Homo sapiens: one gene and its partners. The protein of the gene in region 7 purifies or fractionates together with the protein of the main gene of each other region. This does not show direct contact. Each region holds a gene or a part of one and is shown on either strand. Other genes may lie near its edges.

Evidence for each region.
Region 1: the proteins of LDLRAD1 (region 7) and TMEM39B purify together in Homo sapiens (co-immunoprecipitation; 2 studies listed by BioGRID and IntAct, with this or other methods). This does not show direct contact.
Region 2: the proteins of LDLRAD1 (region 7) and MYO9A purify together in Homo sapiens (affinity purification with mass spectrometry; one large-scale study listed by BioGRID and IntAct). This does not show direct contact.
Region 3: the proteins of LDLRAD1 (region 7) and ASPHD2 purify together in Homo sapiens (co-immunoprecipitation; 2 studies listed by BioGRID and IntAct, with this or other methods). This does not show direct contact.
Region 4: the proteins of LDLRAD1 (region 7) and ATP13A1 purify together in Homo sapiens (co-immunoprecipitation; 2 studies listed by BioGRID and IntAct, with this or other methods). This does not show direct contact.
Region 5: the proteins of LDLRAD1 (region 7) and ALG11 purify together in Homo sapiens (co-immunoprecipitation; 2 studies listed by BioGRID and IntAct, with this or other methods). This does not show direct contact.
Region 6: the proteins of LDLRAD1 (region 7) and HSDL1 purify together in Homo sapiens (co-immunoprecipitation; 2 studies listed by BioGRID and IntAct, with this or other methods). This does not show direct contact.

What each region holds. Positions count from the first base shown.
Region 1 is NC_000001.11:32,096,624-32,100,677, reverse strand, and holds part of TMEM39B (transmembrane protein 39B), read right to left. Parts: intron 388-4,054; exon of another isoform or gene 237-387; coding exon 116-236; intron 1-115. UniProt on the Homo sapiens protein: May protect the cells against DNA damage caused by exposure to the cold-warming stress and facilitates tissue damage repair during the recovery phase.
Region 2 is NC_000015.10:71,901,114-71,905,455, reverse strand, and holds part of MYO9A (unconventional myosin-IXa), read left to right. Parts: intron 1-449; coding exon 450-530; intron 531-1,416; coding exon 1,417-1,527; intron 1,528-2,392; coding exon 2,393-2,515; intron 2,516-4,115; coding exon 4,116-4,265; intron 4,266-4,342. UniProt on the Homo sapiens protein: Myosins are actin-based motor molecules with ATPase activity. Unconventional myosins serve in intracellular movements. Regulates Rho by stimulating it's GTPase activity in neurons.
Region 3 is NC_000022.11:26,441,874-26,445,843, reverse strand, and holds the end of ASPHD2 (aspartate beta-hydroxylase domain-containing protein 2), read right to left. Parts: intron 3,386-3,970; coding exon 3,272-3,385; intron 2,748-3,271; coding exon 2,638-2,747; 3' UTR 1,163-2,637; coding exon of another isoform or gene 1,150-1,162; 3' UTR 829-1,149; downstream 1-828. UniProt on the Homo sapiens protein: May function as 2-oxoglutarate-dependent dioxygenase.
Region 4 is NC_000019.10:19,656,839-19,661,180, reverse strand, and holds part of ATP13A1 (endoplasmic reticulum transmembrane helix translocase), read left to right. Parts: intron 1-1,193; coding exon 1,194-1,283; intron 1,284-1,389; coding exon 1,390-1,580; intron 1,581-3,772; coding exon 3,773-3,845; intron 3,846-4,031; coding exon 4,032-4,187; intron 4,188-4,264; coding exon 4,265-4,334; intron 4,335-4,342. UniProt on the Homo sapiens protein: Endoplasmic reticulum translocase required to remove mitochondrial transmembrane proteins mistargeted to the endoplasmic reticulum.
Region 5 is NC_000013.11:52,022,051-52,026,392, forward strand, and holds part of ALG11 (GDP-Man:Man(3)GlcNAc(2)-PP-Dol alpha-1,2-mannosyltransferase), read left to right. Parts: intron 1-1,955; coding exon 1,956-2,887; intron 2,888-4,342. UniProt on the Homo sapiens protein: GDP-Man:Man(3)GlcNAc(2)-PP-Dol alpha-1,2-mannosyltransferase that operates in the biosynthetic pathway of dolichol-linked oligosaccharides, the glycan precursors employed in protein asparagine (N)-glycosylation.
Region 6 is NC_000016.10:84,127,701-84,132,042, forward strand, and holds part of HSDL1 (inactive hydroxysteroid dehydrogenase-like protein 1), read right to left. Parts: intron 3,628-4,342; 5' UTR 3,622-3,627; coding exon 3,402-3,621; intron 2,732-3,401; coding exon 2,286-2,731; intron 2,076-2,285; coding exon 1,848-2,075; intron 1-1,847.
Region 7 is NC_000001.11:54,015,387-54,019,475, reverse strand, and holds the start of LDLRAD1 (low-density lipoprotein receptor class A domain-containing protein 1), read left to right. Parts: upstream 1-1,289; 5' UTR 1,290-1,299; coding exon of another isoform or gene 1,300-1,363; coding exon 1,364-1,384; intron 1,385-2,048; coding exon 2,049-2,100; intron 2,101-4,089.

The DNA of each region.
Region 1 (4,054 bases), about 22 Mb from region 7:
TTGGATTGGGGAAATACTGAAAATAGCTTTCTCTTGCAATGACATCACATTCCTGCCCTGCAGATCCTCCCACCCTCTCAGGCCCCAACCCTCCTTCCCCGGGGAGGAGACTCACATGGAAGCGGAAGTGGGAGACGTCAGAGGGGATAGCCACGTTGTAGTGGCCTACGGCTTTGTAGACGTTCTTGCTGTGCTTCACCAGCACGCCCTGCGGCCACATGCATTCTTCAGTCCACCTGGGGGCACAGTTCAATGGTGCCCCTTATCCCCAGCTCACCCACAAAAGGGATACCAGAAGAATGGGCAGGAGGGAATCACCAGGGCTCTACTCCCATTTCTATCACTTAGACACGCTGACTTTCCTTTTCTGGGTTTCAGTTGCCTCCTCTGTAAAATGGGGTAAGAATCATGAGGAATTCACTGTACTGTGAGTTAGGTGGTCTAGGGCTGACATTAATTACTAAGAGACTGTTGAGAGAACCCTTCTTCCTCTCTGGGTCCCTTTGCTTCATCTGGTCTCACCTCTTGCCTCCAAGTGGTCCACCACACAGTTGTCTGAGTGGTCTTTGTAAAATACTAAGCTCAGCCTGACCACCCTCTGCTTAAAACTCTTTGTGGGCTTTTTTTTTTGAGAATGAGTTTCGATCTTGTCGCCCAGACTGGAGTGCAGTGGCACAATCTTGGCTTACTGCAACCTCCGCCTCCCAGGTTCAAGCAATTCTCCTGCCTCAGCCTGAAGAGTAGCTGGGATTACAGGCATCTGCCACCATGCCCAGCTAATTTTTGTATTTTTAGTAGAGATGGAGTTTCACCATGTTGGCCAGGCTAGTCTCGAATTCTTGACGTCAGGTGATCTGTCCACCTCAGTCTCTCAAAGTGCTGGGATTACAGGCGTCAGCCACAGCGCCTGGTCCTGCTTAAAACCTTTTGAAGGCTTCCTAGTGCCCTTGGGGTCAAGGCCCCAAGGATTTGACATGGCCTCTGAGGTCTTGTGTGGCTTCCCACAACCCTCACCACACAGCTCATGCTGTTTCTCGTTCCTCCAGCACTCTGTACTGCTTCACGTCTCTCCCTAAGCTGCTCCCTCCAATTGGATTGCCCTTCCCAAAGCCTAATCCTTCTGGTAAGCTCTTCATCATCTTTCAAAACCCAGGTTCCTCCACAAAGCCTTTCTCAAACTCCCTAGAGTTTGACATCCTTTTATTTTTTTAAAAAAACTTTAAGTTCTAGGGTACATGTGTACAACATGCAGGTTTGTTACATATGTATACATGTGCCACATTGGTGTGCTGCACCCATTAACTCGTCATTTACATTAGGTATTTCTCTTAATGTTATCCCTCCCCCACCCCACCCCACCACAGGTCCTGGTGTATGATGTTCCCCACCTTGTGTCCAAGTGTTCTCATTGTTCAATTCCAACCTATGAGTGTTTTTTTTTTTTTGAGACAGAGTCTCACTCTGCCGCCCAGGCTGGAGTGCAGTGGCGCTCGGCTCACTGCAACCTCCACCTCCTGGGTTCAAGTGATTCTCCTGCCTCAGAACTATAGGCACCTGCCACCACGCCCGGCTAATTTTTCTGTATTTTTTGTAGAGACGGGGTTTCGCCATGTTGCCCAGGCTGGTCTCAAACTGCTGACCTCACGTGATCTGCCTGCCTTGGCCTCCCAAAGTGCTAGGATACAGGCAATGAGCCACCGTGCCTGGCCCATTTGGCATCCTTTAACTGTTCCCTGCATCTCCTGCTACTAGTCCACATTCCCCAATGCTGGTCATCTATTTATTTCCCATCTGTATACCTCACTAGGCTGAGAGCCCTTGAGCGGGAGGATCTAATCCATCCCTGTGTCCTCAGAGCATGCCGCAAGGCCTGGCACAGAGAGGCCCTAGTGAGCATGTGAATGAAATGCTAGGACCGGTGAGCTTTCTTTTTTTTTTTGAGACAGAGTCTCGCTCTTTCGCCTAGGCCAGACTGCAGTGGCGCTATCTCTATCTCGGCTCACTGCAAGCTCCGCCTCCTAGGTTCATGCCATTCTCCTGCTTCAGCCTCCTGAGTAGCTGGGACTACAGGCGCCCGCCACTGCGCCCAGCTAATTTTTTTGTATTTTTAGAAGAGACGGGGTTTCACCGTGTTAGCCAGGATGGCCTCGATCTCCTGACCTCGTGATCCGCCCGCCTTGGCCTCCCAAAGTGCTGGGATTACAGGCGTGAGCCACTGCACCTGGCCCAGTGAGCTTTCTTATAATGTCCTGTGAGATCTCCCAGGAATCCCAAGGGCCTGGACCAGAGGACTGCAAGTCACAGCCTGTAAGCAGCCCCCTTCTCAACCCAATGCTCTTGCCTTGCTGACTCACTCATTTAAAAAAAAAATAGTTGGCTGGGCACAGTGGCTCACACTTGTAATTCCAGCACTTTGGGGAGGCCGAGGGTGTGCAGATCACCTGAGGTCAGGAGTTCGAGACCAGCCTGGCCAACATGGTGAAACCCCGTCTCTACTAAAAATACAAAAAAAAATTAGCGGGGCATGGTGACACAGGCCTGTAATCCCAGCTACTCGGGAAGCTGAGGCAGGAGAATCGCTTGAACCCGGAAGGTGGAGGTTGCAGTGAGCCAAGATCGCAGCACTGCACTCCAACCTGGGCAACAAGAGCGAAACCCCGTCTCAAAAAACAAAAAAGAAAAGTTATTGTGCGACTCATAACATGAATGAACCTCACAAACAATATGCTGAATAAAAGAAGTTGGGGGCCGGGCACGGTGGCTCACGCCTGTAATCTCAGCACTTTGAGAGGCTGAGGCGGATGGATCATGAGGTCAGGAGATTGAGACCATGGTGAAACCCTGTCTCTACTAAAAATACAAAAAATTAGCCAGGTGCGGTGGCGGGCATCTGTAGTCCCAGCTACTCAGGAGGCTGACGCAGGAGAATGGTGTGAACCTGGGAGGCGGAGCTTGCAGTGAGCCGAGATCACACCACTGCACTCCAGCCTGGGCGACAGAGCGAGACTCCATCTCAAAAACAAACAAACAAAAAAAAGAAGTTGGGGCCGGGTGCAACAGCTCACGCCTATAATCCCAGTTCCACTTTGGGAGGCTGAGGCAGGCAGATCACGAGGTTGGGAGTTCGTGACCAGCCTGGCCAGCATGGTGAAACCCCATCTCTACTAAAAATACAAAAAATTAGTTGGGCATGGTGGCGCACGCCTGTAATCCCAGCTACTCGGGAGGCTGAGGCAGGAGAACTGCTTGAACCTGGGAGGCGGAAATTGCACTGAGCCAAGATCGCGCCACTGCACTCCAGCCTGGGTGACAGAGTGACACTCTGTAGCAAAAAAAAAAAAAAAGAAGAAGTTGGACACGATTTCATTTATATTAAGTTCTACAACAGGCAAAACTAACCTCTCGTGAAAGAAAACAGAAAGGTAGTTTGTCTTGGGGGAAGGATCACTGGGAAGGGCCATGAGGACATTTTCTGAAGGGCTGGAAATGTTCTATATCTTGAATGAGGGGTGGGTTACATGAGTATATATACCTTTATCAAAACTGAAAGAATTGTACCCTTTAAGATTTGTAGGCCAAGTGCAGTGGCTCATGCCTGTGATCCCAGCACTCTGGGAGGTCGAGGTGGGTGGATCGCTCGAGCCCATAAGCTCTAGACCAGCCTGGGCAACATGGCAAAACCTTGTCTCTACAAAAAAATACAAAAATTAGCTGGATGTGGTGGCATGCGCCTGTAATCCCAGCGACTTGGGAGCTGAGGTGGGAGGATCACCTGAGCCCAGGAGGTTGTGGCTGTAATGAGCTGTGATTGCACCACTGCACTCCAGCCTGGGAGACAGAGTGGGACCTTGTCTCAAAAAAAAAAAAGGATTGCACATTTCACTGTATGGAAATTTTACCTTAAAAAGAAAGGCCTAGGCCAAGTGTAGTGGCTCACTCCTGTAACCCCAGCACTTTGGGAGGCCAGGACGAGTGAATCACCTGAGGTCAGGAGTTTGAGACCAGCCTCGCTAACATGGTGAAACCCCATCTCTACTAAAAACGTAAAAATTAG
Region 2 (4,342 bases), on a different chromosome or scaffold from region 7:
AAGAGAGAATGTGCAAATTACCATTATCAGGAATAAAAAAAGGGATATCATTACATACTTTGTAGACATTTAAAGTAAAGCAAGGGCTTACTACCTTACTGGATACCCTCCTGAATCATTTTAAAAGTTGTAGGATACATGAGTTTGAATAAAATTGTTTGATGAAATGTGAAGAAAAGTGAAAAAAATTCTATATTTGATTGTTCTGAAAACATCTGCAATATTTACTATTTCCAGGCTATCTGCTTTAATATTAAACTACCATCTTTATCCTTAATTATCCATAATTTAACCAGTATGAGAATATACACAATGTGCTTTTCAAAAACCTCTTTCTATGTGTACCTCTACTTTTTGAATGTTTTGCCAGCATGTTGATTATAGTTATAAATTATTTGTTAATAGTTTGGAATGGAAGAGTATGATAATTATATTGCTTTCTGTTGCAGGCATCATTAAGCAAGCTAATGGAAACACTTGGTCAAGCAGAACCATATTTTGTAAAATGCATTCGCTCTAATGCTGAAAAGGTAAAAATGTCCTATAAATGAGAGCACATATCTCAGCTTACTTCAAACTGAGCTTTAAATACTTTTAAGCAGAATAAGTGGAGGGGAAGCACTAACTATAATATTTATAAGGAAAATAGTATGTTATAAACACTTTAAATGGATTTTTCCACACTTCCCTGCCTGTAAGGTGTTTATTTGGATTTGATTTAGCATCACCCAGAATTTGAGAAGCAAATACCTCTTGAAGTCCTGTCAGAAAAGAATTTTCTTTTTTGTTTTTGTTTTTGTTTTGAGGCAGAGTCTCACTGTGTCACCTAGGCTGGAGTGCAGTGGCATGATCTCAGCTCACTGTAATCTCCGCCTCCTGGTTTCAAGCAGTTCTCCTGCCTCAGCCTCCTGAGTAGCTGGGACTACAGGTGTGCACCACCACGCCCGGCTAATTTTTGTATTTTTAGTAGAGACAAGGATTTGCCATGTTGGCCAGGCTGGTCTTGAACTCCTGACCTCAGGTGATCAGCCCACCTTGGCCTCCCAAAGTGCTAGGATTATAGGCGTGAGCCACTACACCCAGTTGTAGGTTATCTTGTTACAGATTTTGTAGTGATTGGACTATGTGGCCTCTGTGGGTGACTACATTCTTTTTGAGCCTTTAAGGTCCTCTCTCTTCACAACCAGAGAAGCCTGGAAGCTTGGTTTCTCTCTTTTCCCTAGGGTTGGGCAGTCAGAACTTTTCTGAAGCTACCAGCTGAGAGGTGAGCTTGCCTTAATATACTTAGTTACTGTATATGTTAACCAGACAACCTCCAGTCAATCTCTAGATACTCAACAGTTAGTCATGCTTATAAACAGATAATTAATTTGGAGATCTACTGTTCTGGGTTAATCTTTTTTCCATTTGCTTTAGCTGCCCTTAAGGTTCAGTGATGTCTTGGTACTTAGACAGCTTCGATACACCGGGATGCTGGAAACAGTTCGAATTCGCCAATCAGGATACAGCTCCAAATATTCTTTCCAGGTTCTGTTTTTATAGTGATATTTACATATTTAGACACATCAAGTAAATGATTCCCACATATCTTGCTTATTATTTCTTTGGGGCTTACTTATTTTCCTTAATTCTTCCTTTCCATTTCACGTTTTGTATACGGAATTGAAAAGGGATAGACAGTATTTACTTTGATTGAATGGCAGCAATCTCATTAAGCTTATTGTAATAGAATCCAGTACTTGGCTATTCTCATTTGCTCGGAATGTTTGCTAATACTAAATTTACTCCTGATATAACAATTCTTTGCACTGACCTCTCCAGTAACTGAAATAGTTCAATGAGAATTATCTAGTGAAAAGATTCTATTTGGTTTTCCCTAAAGTTTTCTCAGCAGGATTTTCTTTCATAGTAAGCTGCCAGCAAGGCTCACAGCTACTCGTATCAGCAATTGCTGCTATGGGTATGGAAACTATATTGAAGCTGTTCAGCAACTGAGCAAGTCTTTGCTGTTACTGGGACGGAAAGCCTCATTCTCAGTGATACCCTGTCCCCATCCTGCCACGTTTGCTTTTTTTTTCCTGATAGAAATTTTAGGGTCTTGTTAAATACCCTTTTCTTTGGTCTTTTATAAAGCTTTCTCAAAAGGGATAATTAGCCTCTGCCTTTTTTTTCTCTCATTCCCTTTTGATGTCATGATATGTAGAACCCAATATCTTTCTCCACCTCCTATGTTTTCCGAATTAACCTTTTATCATATCTTAAATTAACATGCACGTCTTGGTTTCACCCTGTTTAAAAGAAAGAGAAAAGATTAATAGAATGATAATTAGTTTAAGGTCTTGTTTACATACACTGTTTTCTGATTTTACAATATTTTTAAATTATTTTTCAGGATTTTGTGAGCCACTTCCATGTACTTCTTCCCCGAAATATTATTCCATCCAAATTTAACATTCAGGATTTCTTCAGGAAAATAAATCTTAATCCAGATAATTATCAAGTTGGAAAAACCATGGTAAATATAATCTGTATAGCTCTGGTCAAAATTGAGTGCATTTATTTAAAAAATAATAATTTTTGCCTATGAGATTGTTTATTAAAAAGATAGTGAATCAGATATCAGAAGACAATTGGTTAGGCCCAGGTTTTTATTTAATTATGTAGTCAATATTAATCACAGAGCTCTGGCCAGTGCTCTAGTTCTGACTATAATTTTAACTGCCTAAAAATCATCTCTCCATAGATACTCTACTGTAATCTCCAAGCCAGCTTGCCCAAGGTGACCATATCCAGATTCATCTGTTCTTAAATTTATCAAATACTTTCTTTCTCTGTCACCCTTTTTCCAGTTTCTCAGTCTAGAAACCATAATTGTCTTTGGCATACCGTTCACTTTAATCCTTTCACAAAGTTTTAGGGATTTTTTTTCCTTTTACAAAGAGATTCTTACATCGCTTTCTGTTTCTCCATTACTACTGCTTCCATTTTATTTTTATTCCTTATCTCTTCTCATCTACATTGCTTATACAGTGAACAGCTTACTTATCTGATTCTAGTATATTTGTCATTCCATTTAATTTATTCTACTCATAATATTAAAATTATTATCTTAATATACTTAGTTCTTTATGTCTGCCTCCTGCTTGATAATAACCTCCTGATAACCTCCTCATTAAATCCAAACATCTTTCTCTTTTTTGAGAACCTTCATATTGTGGCTTCACATTACTTAATATCTTTTTTATGGAGATTAATTGTCCCGTTGTCTCCTGTGCATGCCTTTATTATTATTTTCAACTCTCTGTGTTACTCAGGTGGGATCTTTTGTCTCTGGCCCTTATTAGTTTACCATCTTCCTCTTCGGGTATATAATATCTACCTGCTCTCAAATGAGAGGTATAATTCCTGTTTCTAAAGGGATATGTCTCCTTCACCTTTGCAGCCTCACAAACCCTAAACATTAGTGGAATGAAGGAGTAAATAAAATAAACTTATTAATAACTTTGGACAGTGAGAAGCTTTTAATGCACGCTGGATTTCAAAAAGACTGTTATCATTGGTTTATTCATTATATGATTCAAGCTTCAAGATCTATGGTTTTCAACTTTTTTCCCCATCCCAACACGCTTGAAAAATATGACTTATTACCAGTAATACATTTACTCATAGCAGTGGTTTCCCCAATGGACTAATGTATCATAATCTCTGGCACTGGAATTTTGATATTCTTGCTCACCTTGTCATTTTTCCCTCCCTTCCTCCCTTCCTTACCTTCCTTTTTTTGTCTTTTTTTTTTTTGGAGACCAGGTCTCTCTATTTTGCCGTAGAACTGGAACTCCTGGGCTTCAGCAAACTTCCTGTTTCAGCCTTCTCAGTAGTTAGGAGTATAGGCATGTAGCACCACACCCAGCTCACCTTCCGTATTCTACTATCTCCATTTCAATTTGAGAATGACTACTTTGGATAAATCTGTAGGAATATTTATCAGTACTTCATTTACATGCCTGCCACTGTGTTTGTTCTTCTCTAAAAGCTTATCACAGAAAGGATGATTCATGAAATAAATTTCTCATTTCTTCTTAAGCTGCATTCCTCATCTTTCTTCCTTTTGGTAGGTCTTTCTAAAGGAGCAGGAACGACAGCACTTACAAGATCTGCTTCACCAAGAGGTGCTCCGCAGAATCATATTGTTGCAGCGATGGTTCAGGGTCTTGCTGTGTAGGCAGCATTTCCTCCATCTGAGACAAGCATCTGTTATTATCCAGGTGAGAAGCAAAGGATTCTTTGCATGAGATTGACTAGTTTATTTGGCCTTTGTTTAGTAACCAGAACCTTTTTACTG
Region 3 (3,970 bases), on a different chromosome or scaffold from region 7:
CTGTGATTAGACACAGGCAATTGAAAGTAGCCACTGGCTTCTCTGGCCACACCCACTGCTGTCCCGATGTGTTTTCCCATCTCTTCCATTTGGCGGCCTTCCTCTTCACCTGTTTCTCTACTCAGCTGTGGCAGAAAGGGAAACAAGGTTGTTGAGTGCCCTTCATGTGCCAGATACTGCACATACCCACAGAGGAGAAACTGAGGCTATGAGAGGCTAAGGGACTTGCCCAAGGTCCCGAGGGTGCAAACTCCTGGCACGGAGTCCTAAATCCTCAGCTTTTCTGAAGCCAGGGTCCTTGTTCTTCTTTGCCCAGTTAGACATCTATTGCTCCTTAACATATCCTAGATGTGCTCTTGTCCCCACCCCACTAGTCCCATTGCTTTGGGACATTTTGCTTCATTCACTATCCACGATCAATTCTAGTGACCCGCCTGTCTCTGTGACATCACTCAAAACACAAGAGCCTCAAAGTCACTTGCCCCCTTCTGCCTAGCAAGTCTTTTTTTTTGGACAGGGTCTTGTTCTGTCGTCTTGGCTGGAGTGCACTGGCGCGACCTAGGCTCACTGCAGCCCCCGCCTCCCAGGTTCAAGTGATCCTCCCACCTCAGCCTCTCAAATAGCTGGGACTACAGGTGTGCACCACCACACTCAGCTAGTTTGTTTGTTTGGTAGAGACAACGCCTCACTATATTACTCAGGCTGGTCTCAAACTCCTTGGCTCAAGCAATCCTCCCCGCTCAGCTTCCCAAAGTGCTAGGATTACAGGCGTGAGCCACCGAGCCTGGCCTAAGTCTTTCTTTACAACAGATGACCTCACCACTTCACTCTGGTTTTCAGCAAGATCCTTTATTTATCTTCTGTTCCCCAGACATGTCACATGAATGCAGGTAGCTAGGTACCTGCGCGGGCTGTTGGTTTTGTAAACGCAGAGCAGAGCAGTCACGATGTGTAGAAATCATGCACCTCAGTGATTCTTTAACAAGATAATGAGTAAAAAGACTTCAGGTATGTTTGAAATGTCTGCCTTTTCCTGCATTCTCATCACTGACAAATATCTGTGTAGACATTTTACTCAAATGTAGACGTGCTCTTTGCACACTTGCTAGTACCTGCCTGGTGCATTTCAACTGTGTTTTCTTCCAACAGTTGTACCTCTTAGAAGCTGCTGTTTTCCATTTGGATCTAAACACTGGACCTGCACCTGCGACCAGCTGTATATTCCAAACCACTCCTCGGCTTTATAAATCTGACACTGCTCATAATACATTATTCAGAAAAGGCATCTCTAGTGTGGCTGGCCGGCTACGCTTTCACACATCAGCTAACACAGGCTATTTCTAGAGTGAGTGCCTCAAACTGGTCTCCTGGGACCTTTTCCTTCGGGAAGAGATCCACATGTTCTTCACAGGAGACCAGAAAACCAGCACAACGGCCACGGGTCCTCTGGGCATGTAGGTCTTCTCTGTCTCCTCACTAGCACACACTGGCTTGGGTCATTGTCACGCAGTGCACACCTTTGTGCCATGACAAAGACACAGGGCCAACTCTTCCACTATCTCCAAGTCTAGTGTTTGAACATTTATGTACAGACAAATAAATGAAAAAAAAAAAAACATAGGCAACAGAACTCCAAAGCAAAACAGAAACTTTGGTCAGATCTATTATTCCAGTTTTGCCAGAGAAAGGCTTTCCCCAAATGTCGCTGGGTGAGCGCGGTCCTATCCCCCTACAGCTCCTATCAGCCAACCTGGTGGCCTTAACGTTCATCACTGTGGACTCAAAACACCTAAAACTGGGAATTTTCCAGGCCCAGTTTGGCAGTAGGGCTTCTGTAGGCAGTGAGGTAAGCGGATCACACGTTCCGTGGCTGATCTGTGTGAGCCGCAGCTTGGTGCTGGGGGACACCAGCTTCAGCTTTGCAGGAAAGCCATGTTTAAAGAGTAGCCTCCAGTCCTACTGGCCCAATGCTTTTGCCATCAGGGACCTGACAAGGTTTAGAATGAGGTGAGCGATGGTGACAGTATCCCTGGGCCTGGACACTGTGTGCCACCCTGACTGTGTCTGGCAGCCCCTCCACCTGGCTACTGAAGCCAGTCAGGTGTGGGGGCTGCAGACTGTCCCCCTGCCGTCAGGTGGCTGAAGGGTCCCCAGTGTGCCAGCATCAGAGGCCAAGTTCTCTAGCTCTCTGGTTTGCAGTTTTTAGTTTTTTTTTTTTTTTTTTAAGATGACCACAAGAAGTTTTACATTATTATATTCAGACAAATAACCATTTAGTTACTCTATTTCAGAGCACTGAAAAAAACAAGTAGCAACAGAAGACAGACTTACAAGGGCACTAAGTCTCTGGTCACTCAAGGACCAATCAAAGGAATGCGCTGTTAGGCCAGAAAGGAGTCTCTGAAGCAAATGATTGGAAGGAAAAAAAAAAAATCTAAGGAAATACAAGCCGAAAAGTTTCCATTTACAATAACCAAGGGAAAGAGGGACCCGACATGATATAAAATCCCAAATAAGAGCTTTCCGCTGAGGCAGGTTTCTGAGCATGGAAACAACACCGGTAGGGACTGGACCGGACCACAGTCTGCCCAGGCCCCGCCTCGGCCCTTCTCGCCGACTCCAGCATGGGAAATACTCTCATCGTCCCGGAGCAAAGATGAAATCAAGAGCCTGCCGTTCGGCCGCTGCGACGTTTGGATGCCACAAATCCACCATGAAAACCACCCGTGGGCCATCCTCTGCTGAACCTGGGGGGGAAGGAGGGGTGAGAGGACAGGTTCAAACCACCCTGGAGTCAGGACCCAGGATCCAGGCAGGGCTGGACCCTACGTGCTCAGCTTCGGGGCAGGGACCCCATCCTGTCCCTCGGCTCGGATCGGACCACCTCCTCTCTCACTGAGAGCATAAACCTGGCTTCATGGGCTTCTGAGCAGGGTGGACAAAAGGAAATGGGGAGATGGAGGGATCTTTAAGTGGGAATTTTTACGGCAGTGAAACTATTCTGTATGATACTGTCATGGTAGGTCCGTGTCATTATCCATTTGGCGAAACCCACAGAATGGATGGACAACACCAAGAGTGAACCTTAATGTCAACCATGAACTTTAGGTAATAATAACGCATCAATACTGTGTGTGTATATGTGTTATGGGGTGATATGAAGGGGCCTCCTTGGTACTTTCTGCCTGATTTTTCTGGAAACCTAAAACTTCTCTAAAAAAATAAAAGTCTATTCATTGAAAAAAAGGAAGTGGGAAAGGCAGCCACTCACCTTCATGGAACGCAGCATGCAGGAAAGAGTCATCAAAGAGAAGGCAGCGCCCTTCTGCCCAGCACTGGGGCTCTCCCCCCACCACCAGCTCACAGCCATTTGGAGTTTTCAGACCTTGTAGGAAAACCAGAGAAAGGAGAGTGAAGGCAGGCAAGATTCAGGGAAGGCCAGGAGATAGGGGGTGATTTGCCTTACTGAGAGTTTTTGACTTCTAAAGCACCTGACCTGCCTCACACCTCTGGAGCCCGTGCTATGGTCTGAAGGCTTGTGGGCTTGTGTCCCTGCAAATTCCCATGTTGAAACCTGACCCCAAGGTGATGGTGTTAGGAGGTGGGGCCTTTGGAAAGTGATCAGATCATGAAGGTGGGGTCCTAATGGGAGCAGCATCCTTATAAAACAGGCCCAAGGGAGCTTCTTTACCTCCTTTTGCATCTTTTTTTCTTTTCCCTTTTTTTTTTTTTTTTTTTGAAATGGAGTCTCTCTCTGTTGCCCAGGCTGGAATGCAGTGGTGTGATCTCGGCTCACCGCAACCTCCACCTCCCAGGTTCAAATGATACTCCTACCTCAGCCTCCGGAGTAGCTGGGAGGCACTGGAGTAGCTTACAGGCACCCACCACCTCACCCGGCTAATTTTTTTGTTTGTTTTGTTTGAGACAGAGTCTCACTCTGTCGCCCAGGCTGGAGTGCAGTGGCGCGATC
Region 4 (4,342 bases), on a different chromosome or scaffold from region 7:
TTAGGTGCTGTCTGTGCACCCAGCTTCCCAGCTTTTTTTGTTGTTGTTTTTGTTTTTGTTTTGTTTTTTGGGGTTTTTTTGTTTGTTTGTTTGTTTGTTTTTGAGATGGAGTCTGGCTCTGTTGCCCAGGCTGGAGTGCAGTGGCACAATCTCGGCTCACTGCAACCTCCGCCTCCCAGGTTCAAGTGATTGTTCTGCCTCAGCCTCCCGAGTAGCTGAGACTACAGGTGCCTGCCACTATGCCCAGCTAATTTTTATATTTTTAGTAGAGACGGGGTTTCACCATATTGGCCAGGCTGGTCTCAAACTCCTGACCTCGTGATCCCCCCTGCCTCAGCCTCCCAAAGTGCTGGGATTACAGGTGTGAGCCACTGCACCCAGCCTTTTTATTTTGAGACAGAGTCCTGCTCTGTCGCCCAGGCTGGAGTGCAGTGGTGCAATCTCGGCTCACTGCAAGCTCTGCCTCCTGGGTGCACGCCATTCTCCTGCCTCAGCCTCCCAAGTAGCTGGGACTACAGATGCCTGCCACCACGCCCAGCTAATTTTTTGTGTTTTTAGTAGAGATGGGGTTTCACCGTGTTAGCCAGGATGGTCTCAATCTCCTGACGTCGTGATCTGCCCACCTCGGCCTCCCAAAGTGCTGGGATTACAGGTGCGAGCCACTGTGCCTGGCTGGTTTTTTGTTTTTTTTTTTTTAATTGAGATAGGATCTCACTCTGCCACCCAGGCTGGAGTGCAGTGTTGCAATCTCAGTTCACTGCAACCTCCGCCTCCCAGTTCAAGGGATTCTCCTGCCTCAGCCTCCTAAGTAGCTGGTATTACAGGTGTGCACCACCGTGTCCGGCTCATTTGTGTATTTTTAGTTGAGACAGGGTTTCGCCACATTGGCGAGGCTGATCTCAAACTCCTGATCTCAAGTGATCCGCCCACCTTGGCCTCCCAAAGTGCTGGGATTATGGGTGTGAGTCACCGTGCCCAGCCTTGTGCTCCCAGCTTTAAGTGTGGCACCAGAGGCACAGCAAGATGGTCTCGTTTGTCCTGATGACAGACGAGGGAGTGACAGAGGCAGCACCAGAGCCCAGTGGCATTTCAGAATATACCCATAGAGCTGCTGCACCCAAAACCTCCCGGGGGGGTCTTGGAACTGTAGGTTGAGAAGAGCTAAGCCACAATGCTTTCTTTGTCTCTGTCAGGAGTACGACCCCAGCAAAGCGACCTTTGTGAAGGTGGTGCCAACCCCCAACAATGGCTCCACGGAGCTCGTGGCCCTGCACCGCAATGAGGTAGGGACTGCCTGCTGGGCTCCTGGAGGAGGGGCTTGAGTAGGATTCCCAGGCGCTGACACCCCAAGGTCAGGGGCCTCTGTGGCAAACACACCTTCTACCGCAGGGCGAAGACGGGCTTGAGGTGCTGTCCTTCGAATTCCAGAAGATCAAGTATTCCTACGATGCCCTGGAGAAGAAGCAGTTTCTCCCCGTGGCCTTTCCTGTGGGAAACGCCTTCTCATACTATCAGAGCAACAGAGGCTTCCAGGAAGACTCAGAGATCCGAGCAGCTGAGAAGAAATTTGGGAGCAACAAGTGAGTCCTTGATTTGCCTGTAGCACCTTTGCCTTTCTGTCCTGCTCCCCTCCTGATTCAGGGTGCCTAGGAAGCGGGACAGAGGCATCTGCCCTTTTATTTATTTATTTACTATTATTTTATTTTTATTTTATTTTTTATTTTTGAGACTGAGTCTCGCTCTGTCACCCAGGCTGGAGTGCAGTGACGCGATCTCAGCTCACCCCAACCTCCGCCTCCCCGGTTCAAGTGATTCTCCTGCCTCAACCTGCCAAGCAGCTGGGAATACAGGCTCCCCCCACCACGCCTGGCTAATTTTTGTATTTTTAGTAGAGATGGGGGTTTCACCATGTTGGCCAGGCTGGTCTTGAACTCCTGACCTCAGGTGATCCTCCCATGTTGGCCTCCCAAAGTGCTGGGATTACAGGCGTGAGCCACTGCACCCGGCCAAATCTGCCCTTTTAGCCAAATGTCCCAGGTGACTGTGATGCCGCTTGAGCAACATGCTCTAAGTCCAGTCTCCCCTGAACTTGCCTGCTGGCAGGAACCCCAGAGGGTCTGCAGCTGGAAGCCCGTGCCCTGGGGTGTGAGACCTTGAGTGTAAGGTTCTTCACAGGAGTCTAGCCTGTGGCCCCTCCTCAGCAACAGCTTTATTTTAAATTCTTTTAAAATGTTTATTTGTGTAGAGATGGGGTCTCGCCGTGTTGCCCAGGCTTGTCTCAAACTCCTGGCCTCAAGCAGTCCTCCTAAATCAACATCCCAAAGTGCTGGGATTACAGGCATGAGTCACTGCACCCAACCTAAACATTTCAGTCCTCACTGTTTCGAGTCTACGCATCTCAGCGCTTCAGAATGGTGATGGAAGACCGTGACCATGTCTGCCCTTTTGTACTGAGTACAATGGCCAATGTGCGGTGCACACCCTCTCCCTTCATCTTCACCAAAACTGCAAATGCTGACACGTGGCTGGGAGCCGGAGAACTGGGCTCCAAACCCCATCATGGCCTTGTTACGATGGTCCTCAACCCAGAAACCCACAGAACACCTAGGGAGCTCTTTCCTGACTTAATCACTGTTCAGAGATTACAAATATGTTGACTACAACTATCAATCTAATACAAGGATTTATAAGAAACATTTAGCAACTTCCCCTACCCCAAGGTTGGCCAGTCACATTAATGGCCTGTGGCAACTACGTTCCCTTTCATGCTGTTCTTACTCAACGCAAAGGTACCCAGCAAGATACAAGGGAAGGGCTTATTGTTTGATAGCAGTGGGGTTGCTCTTTGGTTTCCTCTTCTCACATCCCATACATAAGACGTCCATGCAGTTAAAGGGCAGAGCGAGAATGACCCTCGTTGACATGACTGGTGCCCTGATCAGATTGGACTATGGCACAGAGTACTGCAGAACACACCCTTAGGCCCAAGTCCTTGCATTCTCGAGCCTTTTTTTTTTTTTTTTTTTTTTTTGGAGACAGGGTCTTACTCTGTTACCCAGGCTGGAGTGCAGTGGTGTGATCATGGCTCACTGTAGCCTTGAACTCCTGGGCTCAAGCATTCATCCTGCCTCAGCCTCCCAAATAGCTGGGACCACAGGCACACACCACCACCCCCAGCTAATTTTTAAATTTTTTGTAAATAGAAGGTCTTGCTGTGTTGCCCAGGCTAGTCTCTGACTCCTGGGCTCAAGCACTCCTCCTGCCTCGGCCTCCCAAAGTGCTTGGGATTACAGGCGTGAACCACCCTACTCGACCCATTCTGGGGCTTTAATTCAGGAATCATAGAAAATCTCAGCTTTGGTGGGGCTGGGTCTCAGTGTCTTCTGCTGTCTGTAGCTTCAGGGCCTCCATCTTTCAATCAGAGGTTCCTTCTCTACTTGCTGTGTCACTCGACCAGATGACGGGCTCTCGTCTGACACCAGCCCCAGGCTGCCAGGAAGAGCATATTGCAGATTAAGGAGCTTCATCTGTTTTATGCAGAGCCGAGGGCTGTGGGCGGGCAGCATGTCTACCCCAGGCTCAGCCAGGATGAGGGAGAGCCACTGCCAAATGGATCCTCCTATCTGGAAGCTCGCCAGGGCTCCCGACGCCCACATATGGCTCTTGGTTTCTTGAGAGCGGCCTGCCATGCTCAGGTTGGAGGGGTCAGGGTGGAGACTCCATACCCCAGAGGCCTTGCCCTGGGAACAGGATGGGGCCTGGTCTCTTGCAGGGCCGAGATGGTGGTGCCTGACTTCTCGGAGCTTTTCAAGGAGAGAGCCACAGCCCCCTTCTTTGTATTTCAGGTAAAGCAGCAGCTCTGGCCCATCTCCCCATTTCCTCCCTTGGGGCTTTCCTAACCGGATCAAGCCTGCCCACCACTTCTAAACCTGGAAGCCTCTCCCCACCCTCACATATCAGATCCGGTGGGTGGAAGGGGCTCATGGGAACAGGGCGGGTAGGGCAAGGACAGACAGGCTGGTATCCCACAGGTGTTCTGTGTGGGGCTCTGGTGCCTGGATGAGTACTGGTACTACAGCGTCTTTACGCTATCCATGCTGGTGGCGTTCGAGGCCTCGCTGGTGCAGCAGCAGATGCGGAACATGTCGGAGATCCGGAAGATGGGCAACAAGCCCCACATGATCCAGGTGTGGCTGCCAGGGAGACCCAGGTTGGGGGTGCAGCACAGGTGCGGCTTCTGTGCTGACACCCATGCCCCGCCCAGGTCTACCGAAGCCGCAAGTGGAGGCCCATTGCCAGTGATGAGATCGTACCAGGGGACATCGTCTCCATCGGTGAGGCC
Region 5 (4,342 bases), on a different chromosome or scaffold from region 7:
TCAGTGAGAAAAGTATCAAAGAATTTGTGGCCCGTCCGGGCACAGTGGCTCACACCTGTAATCCCAGCACTTCAGGAGGCCAAGTCTGGCAGATCACTTGAGGCCAGGAGTTTGAGACCAGCCTGGTTAACATGGCAAAACCCCTTCTCTACTTAAAAAATACAAAAATTAGCTGGGCATGGTGGCACACATCTGTAATCCCAGCTTCTCAGGAGGCTGAGGCACGAAAATCACTTGAACCCGAGAGGTGGAGGCTACAATAAGCCAAGATCACGCCACTGTACTCCCGCCTGGGCGACAGACAGAGCGAGACCCTGTCTTAAAAAAAGAAAGAAAAAACAAATGGAATTTGTGGGCATTTTTAGGCTACCAGAGATCACAATCTTTTTTCACATTTTAAAAGGCTCATTCTTGCTGCTGGGTAAAGAGTGACTGGGAAGGGGCCAGAGAGGAGCAGTTAGATTGTCATCCTTTAGGCTTCCCCAGCATCCTGTGGGTGTCTTTATCAATGCGTAGCACACAGTTTTGCAGTTATTTGTTTTGCATGTCTGTTTTCTCCACTGGACTGAACTTCTGAAGATAAAGACTCTCTCTCATCTCCATACCCCCAAAACCTGGCATCTCATTACTAGATGCTTAATAAATTTGTTTTTTTTTTTTTTTTTCAGATGGAGTTTCATTGTTGTTGCCCAGGCTGGAGTGCAGTGGTGCGATCTTGGCTCACCACAACCTCCGCCTACTGGGTTCAAGCAATTCTCCTGCCTCAGCCTCCCAAGTAGCTGGGATTACAGGCATGTGCCACCACACCACACATATTGGTCAGGCTGGTCTTGAACTCCTGACCTCAGGTGATCCACCCGCCTCGGCCTCCCAAAGTGCTGGGATTACAGGCGTGAGCCACTGCACCCAGCCAATAAATGTTTTATGACTCAAAGAATAATTATAAACAGAGGGAGACCAAAGTATTACAAGTCATTAAAGAATATACTTTTAGATATTTTCATACTAATTATATCTAATTGTGATATAGGCACAAGATCTAGCTTTTAAAGACTTGCATTTTTCAGATAAAAACCCTGAGTATTGCTTTAGTATTGTGATCCTATCTGAAGACAGGTTTGTTGAATCTTAATTCTTGTTTATAGTATTTTATTACCATTTTTTTTACTAAGAACACTGTCAAAACTTTTTAGTATTTCTTTAGACCATCTCATTCATAAATCAACACTTACTGTTGATGCCTGTTCTGTGTGAAACCCTCAGTGGAGGAAATAGCAAAGAACTAGAAGTCATGGTCTCATTTGAAGGACTGTACTTCTAATTCAATAAAAAATGTAGAAAACATCATTTTTAGTATGACCAACATGGAGAAACCCTGACTCTACTAAAAATACAAAATTAGCCGGGCGTGGTGGTGCATGTCTGTAATTCCAGCTACTCGGGAGGCTGAGGCGGGAGAAGCACTTGAACCCGGGAGGCAGAGATTGTCAGCCAAGATGGCGCCATTGCACTCCAGCCTGGGCAACAAGAGTGAAACTGTCTCCAAAAAAAAAAAAAAAATCAAATCTTCTTTATAACTGTAAGAAAATAGTTATCTACAACTTTTTGCTTGATTTTAACCTAATATATTCTTTTTTTTGTTTTTGTTTTTGTTTTTTTGAGACGGAGTTTCACACTTGTTGCCCAGGCAGGAGTGCAGTGATGCAGTCTCGGCTCTCAGTCTCTCAGGGTAGGTAGCAGGCTTTTTTTTTTTTTTTTTTTTGAGATGGAGTCTCACTCTGTCACCCAGGCTGGAGTTCGGTGGCATGATCACGGCTCACTGCAACCTCCGCCTCCTGGGTTCAAGCGATTCTCCTGCCTCAGCCTCCTGAGTAGCTGGGATTACAGGTGCGTGCCACCGTGTCTGGCTAATTTTTGTAACTTAATATATTCTTAACCATTACATTCTATTTTAGGTATCCTGAAGCAGTTTATGTTGTTTATACCGGCGATGTTAATGTCAACGGTCAACAGATACTAGAAGGTGCTTTCAGAAGATTTAACATCAGATTAATTCACCCAGTGCAGTTTGTTTTTTTAAGGAAACGCTATCTTGTGGAAGATTCACTGTATCCTCACTTCACACTGCTGGGCCAAAGTCTAGGATCCATTTTTCTTGGCTGGGAAGCTCTAATGCAGTGTGTTCCTGATGTTTACATTGATTCAATGGGATACGCTTTTACGCTTCCTCTGTTTAAGTATATAGGGGGTTGCCAAGTTGGAAGCTATGTTCATTATCCTACTATCAGCACCGACATGCTCTCTGTAGTGAAGAATCAAAATATTGGATTTAATAATGCAGCCTTCATTACCAGGAATCCTTTTCTCAGCAAAGTAAAGCTCATCTACTACTATTTATTTGCTTTTATTTATGGACTTGTTGGTTCTTGCAGTGATGTAGTCATGGTCAATTCTTCTTGGACACTAAACCATATTCTCTCACTATGGAAAGTTGGGAATTGCACTAACATTGTTTATCCACCTTGTGATGTGCAGACATTTCTGGACATTCCCTTACATGAGAAAAAGATGACCCCAGGACATTTGCTGGTTTCTGTTGGCCAGTTTAGGCCGGAAAAGAATCATCCATTGCAGATCAGAGCCTTTGCTAAATTGCTGAATAAGAAGATGGTTGAGTCACCTCCTTCGCTTAAACTTGTCCTCATTGGAGGTTGTCGTAACAAAGATGATGAACTTAGGGTAAACCAACTGAGAAGGCTGTCTGAGGATTTAGGAGTTCAAGAATATGTGGAATTTAAAATAAACATTCCATTTGATGAATTAAAGAATTATTTGTCTGAAGCAACAATTGGTCTGCATACCATGTGGAACGAGCATTTTGGGATTGGTGAGTTTGGCCTTTAAACAACTTGTTTGGTGCCATGAGATACACATTTTAAGTTCTTTTGATAAAATGATAATACTCTGGAAATCTGCATCATGCCCTAATTCTCTTGCCCTCATCCACCAAATGTGCTTTCCTCACTTGAGACCTTGTAAGATAGTAGTTAATAATAGCAGCTAGTATTTATTGACCAATTCCTGTGTGTGGGCCACTGTGTTGAGATTTTTACATGTATTATCTAATTTAAGCCTTTCTAAACCCGTTTGATAGGTGTTATTGTTATTCCCATTTTATAAATAAAGAAACTCAGGCACAGGAAGGTTTAGAAATTGCTCGAGTTCAGTTACACAGTAAGTGGTAGAGCCCGGATTCTAACCCAGATAGCCCCTGCTCTTAACAGCAACATTTTCTCTCTCCATCTAACCCCACTACATACTTACTGGTACAGATTCCTGGGCCCTACCCTAATCCTACAGAATGGCCAAATGAGAATCTCTGGACAAGGCCCAGGTAGATGTATTTTGATAATGCTGCTTAAGTGATTCTGTTATGCATCAAAAGTTGAGAACCACTGTTTGCATAGGGGCTTCTCACAGTAACTCTTTTAGTCTTTTATTGATTCTACCCTCACCATTGGAATGGCTCTCCTCTTTGTGCCAGATTGCATCATAAGTCTTCAACTTAAATCTCCTTGCACTTTAGCCTTTCTTGTTTATTCTGGCACAAACTGCTATCTCTATTCTGACCTGTTAAGCACACATTTTGCTATAAAATCAAGTACTGCTTTGTGTTTAATTTGGGTCCACATATATTTCTCAAGCGCTTTGTGCCTCACACTGTTAGTTGTTAGGGGAAATGAGGATAACATAAAAGTGACATTTCCTAAACTAAGACTTCAATTTCTCTTATACTCTTTTTACTCCTAGTTAGTAGTGTAGTGCTAGGCCCAGACATTAAGCAAGAACTTGTTGACCCAACCTGTTGCATGGGATCTGACCTCCTGTGCTTCCTTCCATAGAAACTTACTAAGCATTCACTCTGCTGAGCGCTTGGGTGGATGCTAGGGATGTGGTGGAGACAGGAGCTGCTTGGCCTGTCAGAGGCTTCCCACCCTCTGGTGGTACCAACAGGCTACACAGGCAAGTGCCGTGCCGTGCTGTGCCGTGTGCCAGGTGCTATGCTAAGGAAGTGCAGGGTGATGTGAAAGCGCCAAAGAGAAACCTAACACAGACTTGTGCGGGCAGGGAACAGTTGCCCAAGGAAATGATGTGACACTTGAGCAGGACCCGAACAATAGAGGTTAGCCAGGAGAGAGGGGAGAGTCTCCAGCAGAGGGAACAGCACTGTGACAGGAGTGACAACAGATGCATCAATAGGAACATTCAGCAGGAAGACAACAGAGAGGTGATATAGGCCAGGTTAAGCCAGTGGAAAAAAATAGCAGGATTTTAAGTATTG
Region 6 (4,342 bases), on a different chromosome or scaffold from region 7:
GTGACTCACACTGGTATTTTTTTTTTTTTTTTTTGTGAGACGGAGTCTTGCTCTGTCGTCCAGGCTGGAGTGCAGTGGTGTGATCTCGGCTCACTGCAAGCTCTGCCTCCCGGGTTCACGCCATTCTCCTGCCTCAGCCTCCTGAGTAGCTGGGACTACAGGCGCCCACCACCACGCCTAGCTAATTTTTTTGTATTTTTAATAGAGACGGGGTTTCACGGTGTTAGCCAGGATGGTCTCGATCTCCTGACCTCGTGATCCGCCCGCCTTGGCCTCCCAAAGTGCTGGGATTACAGGCTTGAGCCACCACGCCCTGCCAGCTCACGCTTGTAAATCCCAGCACTTTGGGAGGCCAAGGCGGGTGGATCACCTGAGATCAGGAGTTCGAGACCAGCCTGACCAACATGGTGAAACTCCATCTCTACTAAAAACACAAAAATTTGCTGGGCGTGGTGGCAGGCACCTGTAGTCCCAGCTACTCCGGAGGCTGAGGCAGGAGCATCACTTGAACCCGAGAGGTGGAGGTTGCAGTGAGCCAAGATCGCACCATTACACTCCAGCCTGGGCAACAAGAGCGGAATTCCATCTCAAAAAAAAAAAAATTCTAAACTAGGGCACATCTCTTTACTACACCAGATAAAGGAACTGAAATATATTGTAATAGATAATTATGCATTCTCAAATTAATACTTACGATCACAATTTCAAATATCTAAGAAAGTTACTTTCTACAGTACTAAAAGGTACCAATCCTTTGTCATGCCTAAACAATAAGCTTAAAATAAAAATTCTATGCTTCTTGAAAAAATTAGTCTAAGACTATACAGAGATATTATTTGATAAAATGGTTGCATGAAATATAGCCCTATCTTGTGGTTTTGTGGTTTTTTTGGATTATATTTTTCACTGAGAGGTAACCCTCAAGCAGTACTAGAATCTTTTACTTTGAAATTCCCATGTAAATACTTAGTATTTTTATAGTCCTAACATCCACTTACAGCAGCATATTTCTTTTTTTTTTTTTGGAAACAGAGCCTTGCTCTGTCGCCTAGGCTGGAGTGCAGTAGCGTGATCTTGGCTCACTGCAACCTCCGCCTCCAGGGTTCAAGCGATTCTCCTGCCTCAGCCTCCCAAGTAGCTGGGACTACAGGCACACACCACTAAGCCTAGCTAATTTTTGTATTTTTAGTACAGACAGGGTTTCACCATATTGGCCAGGTTGGTCTCGAACTCCTGACCTTAGGTGATCCACCCACCTCAGCTTCCCAAAGTGCTGGGATTACAGATGTGAGCCACCACACCCCAGCCAAAGTAGTATATTTCACTTTAAGGTGCCACATAGATTGAACTTTTGAAAATTCTTAAGGTAATAATTTCACAAAAGAAAATTTAGTGTCTTTGGTCAGGCACGGTGGCTCACGCCTGTAATCTCAGCACTTTGGGAGGCTGAGGCAGGCAGATCATGAGGCCGGAGATCAAGACCATCCTGGCTAACACGGTGAAACCCCGTCTCTACTAAAAATACAAAAATTAGCCAGGCGTGGTGGCAGGTGCCTGTAGTCCCAGCTACTCGGGAAGCTGAGGCAGGAGAATGGCATGAACCCGGGAGGCGGAGCTTGCAGTGAGCTGAGATCGCACCACTGCACTCCAGCCTGGGTGACAGAGCCAGACTCCATCTCAAAAAAAAAAAGAAAGAAAATTTAGTGTCTTAACCAAAATTATTAAGTGTCAGGCTTAAGAGTCAGAATTTACAATTCTCATCTTAGGCTTTAATCAGATTTCTCTGTATCACTGAGATAGGTTCATGATGCATTAATCTAATTATGAGACCTGAAGCACACTCCTACCTGAATAGAATGGGACCAATATCCTGTGGTCCTTTTGGAAATCCCAAGAGTAGAAACAGCATGATGTGCATAGACTTTTGGCGAAGGCACCAACCACGAGCACCTGTGCAGAAAGTTGCTGGGTGCTGTCATGCTGGTGGCTACATAGAAAGGGATTAGACTCTGTACAAAGATTCCTTTAGAGGCATATTCATATTGCAAGGCTCTGCTGAAGTGGTCTAAATAAGCCTGTTGAGACAGAGGGGAGGAAAAGACTTTTAATTCTGGGTGAACTTGAAAATTCAGGAGAAAAAAAGACTTGCTTATTATCAATTCAGGAAAAAATACAGGATAAGCATATGTGAGTTGCTGACAAAGAGTTCAACAAATCAGACCAAACAACTGTTAATAAATGTTCTGTGGCATTAGGATTTCATCTTCCAGTAAGTAACATCTGACCTTAGAAGCAGAAAATGCAGCCAGCTGAGGAGTGGGTTTGCAGCAGGAGCCAGAAGAGATCGTGACGATGGCACCTTTCTTTCTCTCCACCATTCCCGGTAACACAACATGGACCATCAAACTAGCGGCGGCAATGTTCACATTTATGATGTCCCAGAGCTTGTCCTCGGACAGCTGAGTGAAATACTGCGGGTAGGGATAAAACACACCCACGTTATTTACCAAGATGCCAACGTCTTTGTCCTTCAGGGCTTCTCGAATTGGAAGGTAGATCTCACGACCGCTGCTGAAGTCCGCAACTATAATATCAGTTTCCACTTTGTACGTGTCGGCTATGTCTTTAGCAACAACCTGCAACTTCTCCTCGTTCCGACTAATCAGGATTATATTGAGACCTCGGCTTGCTAACTCTTCAGCGTAGGCTTTTCCAATCCCATCTGTTGCACCTAGGATGCAAGTCAGGAAAAGTGAGCATGTGTATTTCACGGTGTGACCCTTAAAATGGACCCAAAGTACCCCCTGTCAGGTTTAGTCAGAGAAAAATTCACACTAGAAATCAAGTCGGTTCTAGTATCTACAAGTCAAGGACACTGTTGCTGAATGAGGAATGTGAAGGGCGCATGCTATACACTCTCCCAGACATCCTGACACACGGACAGGGAGTTATTTTACATTCACCATATTGGTTAGGAGACACAGTAGGAATTTGTTTTCAAACTACTATCTGGCTTGAATGAGTGGCAGGAGGTGCTTTTCTGGGAAATCTTCATAAATTAAAATGAAATTCAAAATAGGTGAAGCATTTCTGAAAGTGGCAACACTTTCAAGACAATTTTAAAACAGAGAACAAAAAGGAAAAGCACATAGTAGGAAGTGGGTCTGGAGGAGGACTGGGAACAGGAGAGAGCAGAATAGGAAGGATACCAATCATGAGGCCAGTTCTTCCTAAGATGAGAGCAGTAAGAAAATGAAATGTGAACATAATCACGGCAGGAGCCATAAGTTTTATTTTTTTATCAGCATGTTCCCATAAAAACACCACATTAAATTCAATAGCTCCTTGAATAATGCATCCGACTTCACAGAAAAGATTATTTTGATTATAAAGTAGGTTACCGCTGACAACGGCCCATCTTCCATACTGCTTGATCAAGTCTGCTCTGCTCCCCAGGCGGGGGATAAAATGCAGCCTGATCAGGCTGTAAAAGTCACAGATGACAGTGATGCTTTTTCTGGCCGTATACCAGGCTCCAACCAAAGCTAGAGCTTCCATATAGCAATTGCAAGACCTGGCGATTTCCCTGTACAAGAGGTAGAAACTGTCAACAGCAGCCATGGCAACCTGCAGGGAGAGGGAAAGAGAGAGAGCCTCTTTGATTAATAAATTAAAGGAACATACACAGTCTGAGTGAAGACATCCAGCTGAGGGCATCAGATCTTGTCAATTGTACGTTCAAATAACACTAACTTTTCAAATGTACGTGGCTCACAGTTTCAGTCTATCTATCTATCTATCTATCTATCTATCTATCTATCTATCTATCTATCAGACAGAGTCTCACCCTGTCGCCCAGGCTGGAGTGCAGTGGTGCGATTTTGGCTCACTGCAACCTCCACCTCCCGGGTTCAAGCGATTCTCCTGCCTCAGCCTCCCAAGTAGCTGGGACTACAGGCACATGCCACCACGCCCGGCTAATTTTTTTTTTTTTTTTTGAGACGGAGTCTCGCTGTCGCCCAGGCTGGAGTGCAGTGGCGCAATCTCGGCTCACTGCAGGCTCCGCCCCCTGGGGTTCACGCCATTCTCCTGCCTCAGCCTCCGGAGTAGCTGGGACTACAGGCGCCCGCCACCTCGCCCGGCTAATTTTTTGTATTTTTAGTAGAGACAGGGTTTCACCGCGTTAGCCAGGATGGTCTCAAACTCCTGACCTCAGGTGATCCGCCACCCTTGGCCTCCCAAAGTGCTGGGATTACAGGTGTGAGCCACCATGCCTGGAGATTCAGCCAATTTATGATCTCACCATTTAACATCCGTAGCTTATAAAGTTACTTTCTTCCAA
Region 7 (4,089 bases):
CAGGAGCTGGCAGATTATTACCCCAGTTCCCCTCACCTTGAGTGGGATAACTCTGAGGGGCATCTTCTCCCCTAGCTTCCCCGAGTGCCCCAGCAGGGCTAAATTCCACTTGCCCACAGCGGAAACCTGCTTCATAACACGACTGTTATCGGATCCTTCTCTTCCATGTCTCATTTCCCTCACCCCCCGACCAGCATTTCCTGGGATCACTCCCAATTAACTCTACTTGCCCTCAAATCTTGTCTTAGAGTCTGATTCTGGGGAACCTTAAACTAAAACACCCCCTTCATCTAGCTTATATCTTTATTTTCTGGATGAAGGAACTGAGGCGCAGGGAAGGGGAGTGAGTCACCCGTCAGAGCCAGTGGTAGGGCCCTAATGAGAGTCCTGTTCTCCCGGCCTAGGGCTCAGCTCTTCACAATGTTACTTGCTGCCTCCCAAGGGCTGCCCCTGTGTCTGTGCCTCCTACTTGCACCCACGTGGATTCATCATTTTATTTCCCAATGCAAAAGAAAAGGCTGATTGCAGGTTGGAAAATCTATGGGCATCAGAGGCAGGTGCAAGAACTCCTGAGCTCATTTCTGGAGGTAGACACCTCTCCTCCCTTGGTCCGGGTCCTTGGACCTGTCCCTCAAGATTCCAGGGCCTTGGTTTACTCAGCAGTGGGACAGGCTGCTAGGGAAACCCACTCACTGGGGACATAGAAGGGGTTGTTCACGCAAGCAACCAGCCCCCCGCCTCTTCCCTACCTCAGCACCACCTCAGGGGCAGTAAAAATTCACATTGCCACGTTTCTAAATGAAACAATTTAAAATTATATTTGCTTTATAATTTTAGTGGAAAATGCATATTCTTTCAATCTAGGTCACCTATGTAGTTGAACAGAAGAACATCAATGAGAAAATGACCCCTACTTTCTAGCCACCGAAACGTCAATTCTGGGAGTTTCTGCCTGCATCTTCATACCCCTGGAACCTGAGCTCCTCCGGTTCCATCTCTGATGTGGAGGAAAATGCACTTTCTGAAAAGTTTCTGGGTTTCACTCCTCCCATGCACTGTGAGACTTGGGGCAGTTTCTCCCTCTCTGAACCTCTGGCTCTTCATCTGTGGAATAGGGATGAGGATTCCAGCCTCGCAATGTTGCTGTCAGATGGCAGATGAGGGAATAGCCTGGCCGGAGAGGGGCCCTCCTGCCTTTGCCTCTGCTTGGAAGGCAGCTGACAGGGGCCTGCCCACAGGGAGGGTGTGGCCCGGGCAAGGCCTCCTGCTTGTCCCTCCTCCAGGTTGGCCTTGGTGACAATGCAGGGAACCCGTGCTGAGCTCTCTGCACACAGCCCCAGTCGGGCAGCAGGAAACCGAAGACATGAACAAGGTCTTCCCCCAGGTGAGAGCTGTCCCCAGGTGAGAGTTGTCTCCAAGTAAGAGCTGTCCCCAAGTGAGAGCTGTCCCCAGGTGAGAGCTGTCCCCAGGTAAGAGTTGTCTCCAAGTAAGAGCTGTCCCCAGGTAAGAGCCGCCCTGACCAGGCTCCTGATCTTGGGAGAGCAAACCTTGGGATGAGGAGTGGGCAGTAGAGAGTGGGCATACATGGGAGACACGGAGGAAAATCAGCCCCCGTCCTGCCCCGGGGCTCACTCCCAGGGTGTAGGGGACCCTACCAATGACCCAGCAATACAGTCCAGGTGGCAAGTGCTGGTATGGAAACAGAGGAGCCAGGTGGACAGGAGGGAAGAGCGGCCAGTTTTACTGGGGAGGAGGGTATCAGGGAAAGCCTCACCCAGGAGTCGCTGCCCAAGCCGGTTTGAAGGATGAATATTTATCAGGTGGACAGCAGAGAAAAAGGCTTTCCAGGCAGAGGGCACAGTGCAGGCAAAGGTGTGGACATATGAAGCGGGCATGATGCATCTGGGGCGTGAGATGCTGGGGTGTGACGGACCCGTGGTTCTACCTAAGACTCTCTCAGTGACCCCTCTGAAAACCCTGTTGTCTGCCTCCCTGAGGCTGGAGCTCACCTCACCTAAGCCCACCCCTCACTCTGTTCTCTTGGGCAGGGAGAGAATGGCTACACTGCTGCTGAATCCAAAGCCCACCCTGGAGGGGAAGGTAAAGAACTGGAGGGCCTGGGGCCAGTGCCCTGTGGGGCTCCCTTGAAGCTGGCAGTTGGCGATAGAGACATGAGGAGGGTTCAAGGCTCCCACTGTCCCTCAGACCTCTGCCTCCATGTTAACGTTGTCTGCTCCCAGCTTCCTGGCCAGCCATGCTGACAGTCACTTGCTTAATAGGGTTATTCATTCTCTCCATGCACATGCATTCATTAAGCACCTACTGTGTGCTGCCTACCTCACAGGCACCAAACTGCATACAGTGCCCACCTGTAACACAGAGAAAAGAGCACCAGCGTCAAATTCTTGACTCAGTGGGTGACCTGGGCAATTCTCTTTAACTCTGATGGATAAAGTGACACATTTATTTAGCCCTACTATGTGCCACTGGCCCATGGTGTGACCAGGACAGTCCTCTTTACCCTTCTGAAAATAGAAGAAGGAAGAAACACACATGTACTGAGCTTTGCATATGCCCTGGCTTGGCCCACATTTGATCAATGACGAAACACACTCAGAGAGGTAGATTAAAATACCAGCTATAAAGAATCCATCCCCAGTTAGGTGCCTGGCACTGCATGATCTCTTTAATCCTCAGGACAGCTCTGAGACAGGGGCCCTGTTATGGGGCAATAACAGATGAGACAGCTGAAACTAAGAGAGGTTGAGTAACCAGGCCAAGGTCACACAGCAGGGAGGTTGGAGGGCCAGGGTTCAAATGTGAACTGAGGTCTCTCTGGTTACAAAGCCCCAGGGCTTTTGTTGCTCCGAGCTGGTGTTTGTTTATTTCTAAGTCCTGACTCATGATGGGCGGGGTTGTGGAAAGAATCACCTCCTTTTCCTCATCGGTACAGGGAGAGGACTGGCACCTAAGGGCTTTCTGGCTTTGAAGTGCAACAGCTTCACCTGGGCAGGAGCCTTGGTTCTGCGGGTTCTCCCATGGCCCCACCTTGTGCATGGTCTGTGCTGCACAAATATTTGAGGAGCTGCTTGGCTGATCAGGACACCTCTCCCTGCCCAGAGTCACGCTGCCTCCCTGGTTACCTGAGTTTACCCTGTTTGCTGATGGCCAAGGAGCCACCAACTAGGGCTGTAGGGATGACAGGTTTTAGATTTATGCTGCCTCTCCTGCTATTGTCTCCCCTCCCAATACACATCCATCTTGGAGTCCCACCACCCCAGGCCATTTGTGCTCCCCCACCTGCAACCACTGGGCCTTTACTCCTGCCACGCCCTCTGCCTGGAATGCCCTCTCTTTGCACCCTCCCCTTACCTGCCTGTGGAAATCCCATTCTGCTTCTGAGGACACTGCATCAGAAATGTGAATGGATTGGAAATAACCTGGACTGACCCATACTGGGGGCCTTCTCTTGCCTCCTGGACCCCCAGGTCGGCATATTCACAGAGTGTTCACAAAGCCCCAGGCCGGTGTGGTGGCTCACACCTGTAATCCCAGCACTTCGGGAGGCCAAGGTGGGCGGATCACCTGAGGTCAGGAGTTCAAGACCAGCCTGGCCAACATGGTGAAACCCGTCTCTACTAAAAATACAAAAATTAGCCAGGCATGGTGGCGGGCGCCTGTCATCCCAGCTACTCGGGAGGCTGAGGCAGGAGAATCGCTTGAACCCAGAAGGCAGAGGTTGCAGTGAGTTGAGATCATGCAACTGCACTTCAGCCTGGGCAATAGAGCAAGACTCCGCCTCAAAAAAAAAACAAAAAAAACAAAAAAAACAAAAGCCCCCACCACGTGCCTGGCTCTGGGCTGGGCCCTGGGGTCACAGGGATGAATCACACCTGCTCCTGCCCCTTTCTCTGAGGTACCTGTGGCCTGGGCACGTCAGTAGCTCCCACACCCCTTCAGGCATGTCCATGCCTTGCCTTCTAAGTGCAATAACAAGCTGCAGAGGGCAAGGACCAGGGCAAGCTGCACAGCAGGGCACCCAGGAGGTCCTCAGTAAAGCCTTCTTTTATTATTTTGTAAGCAGGGGAG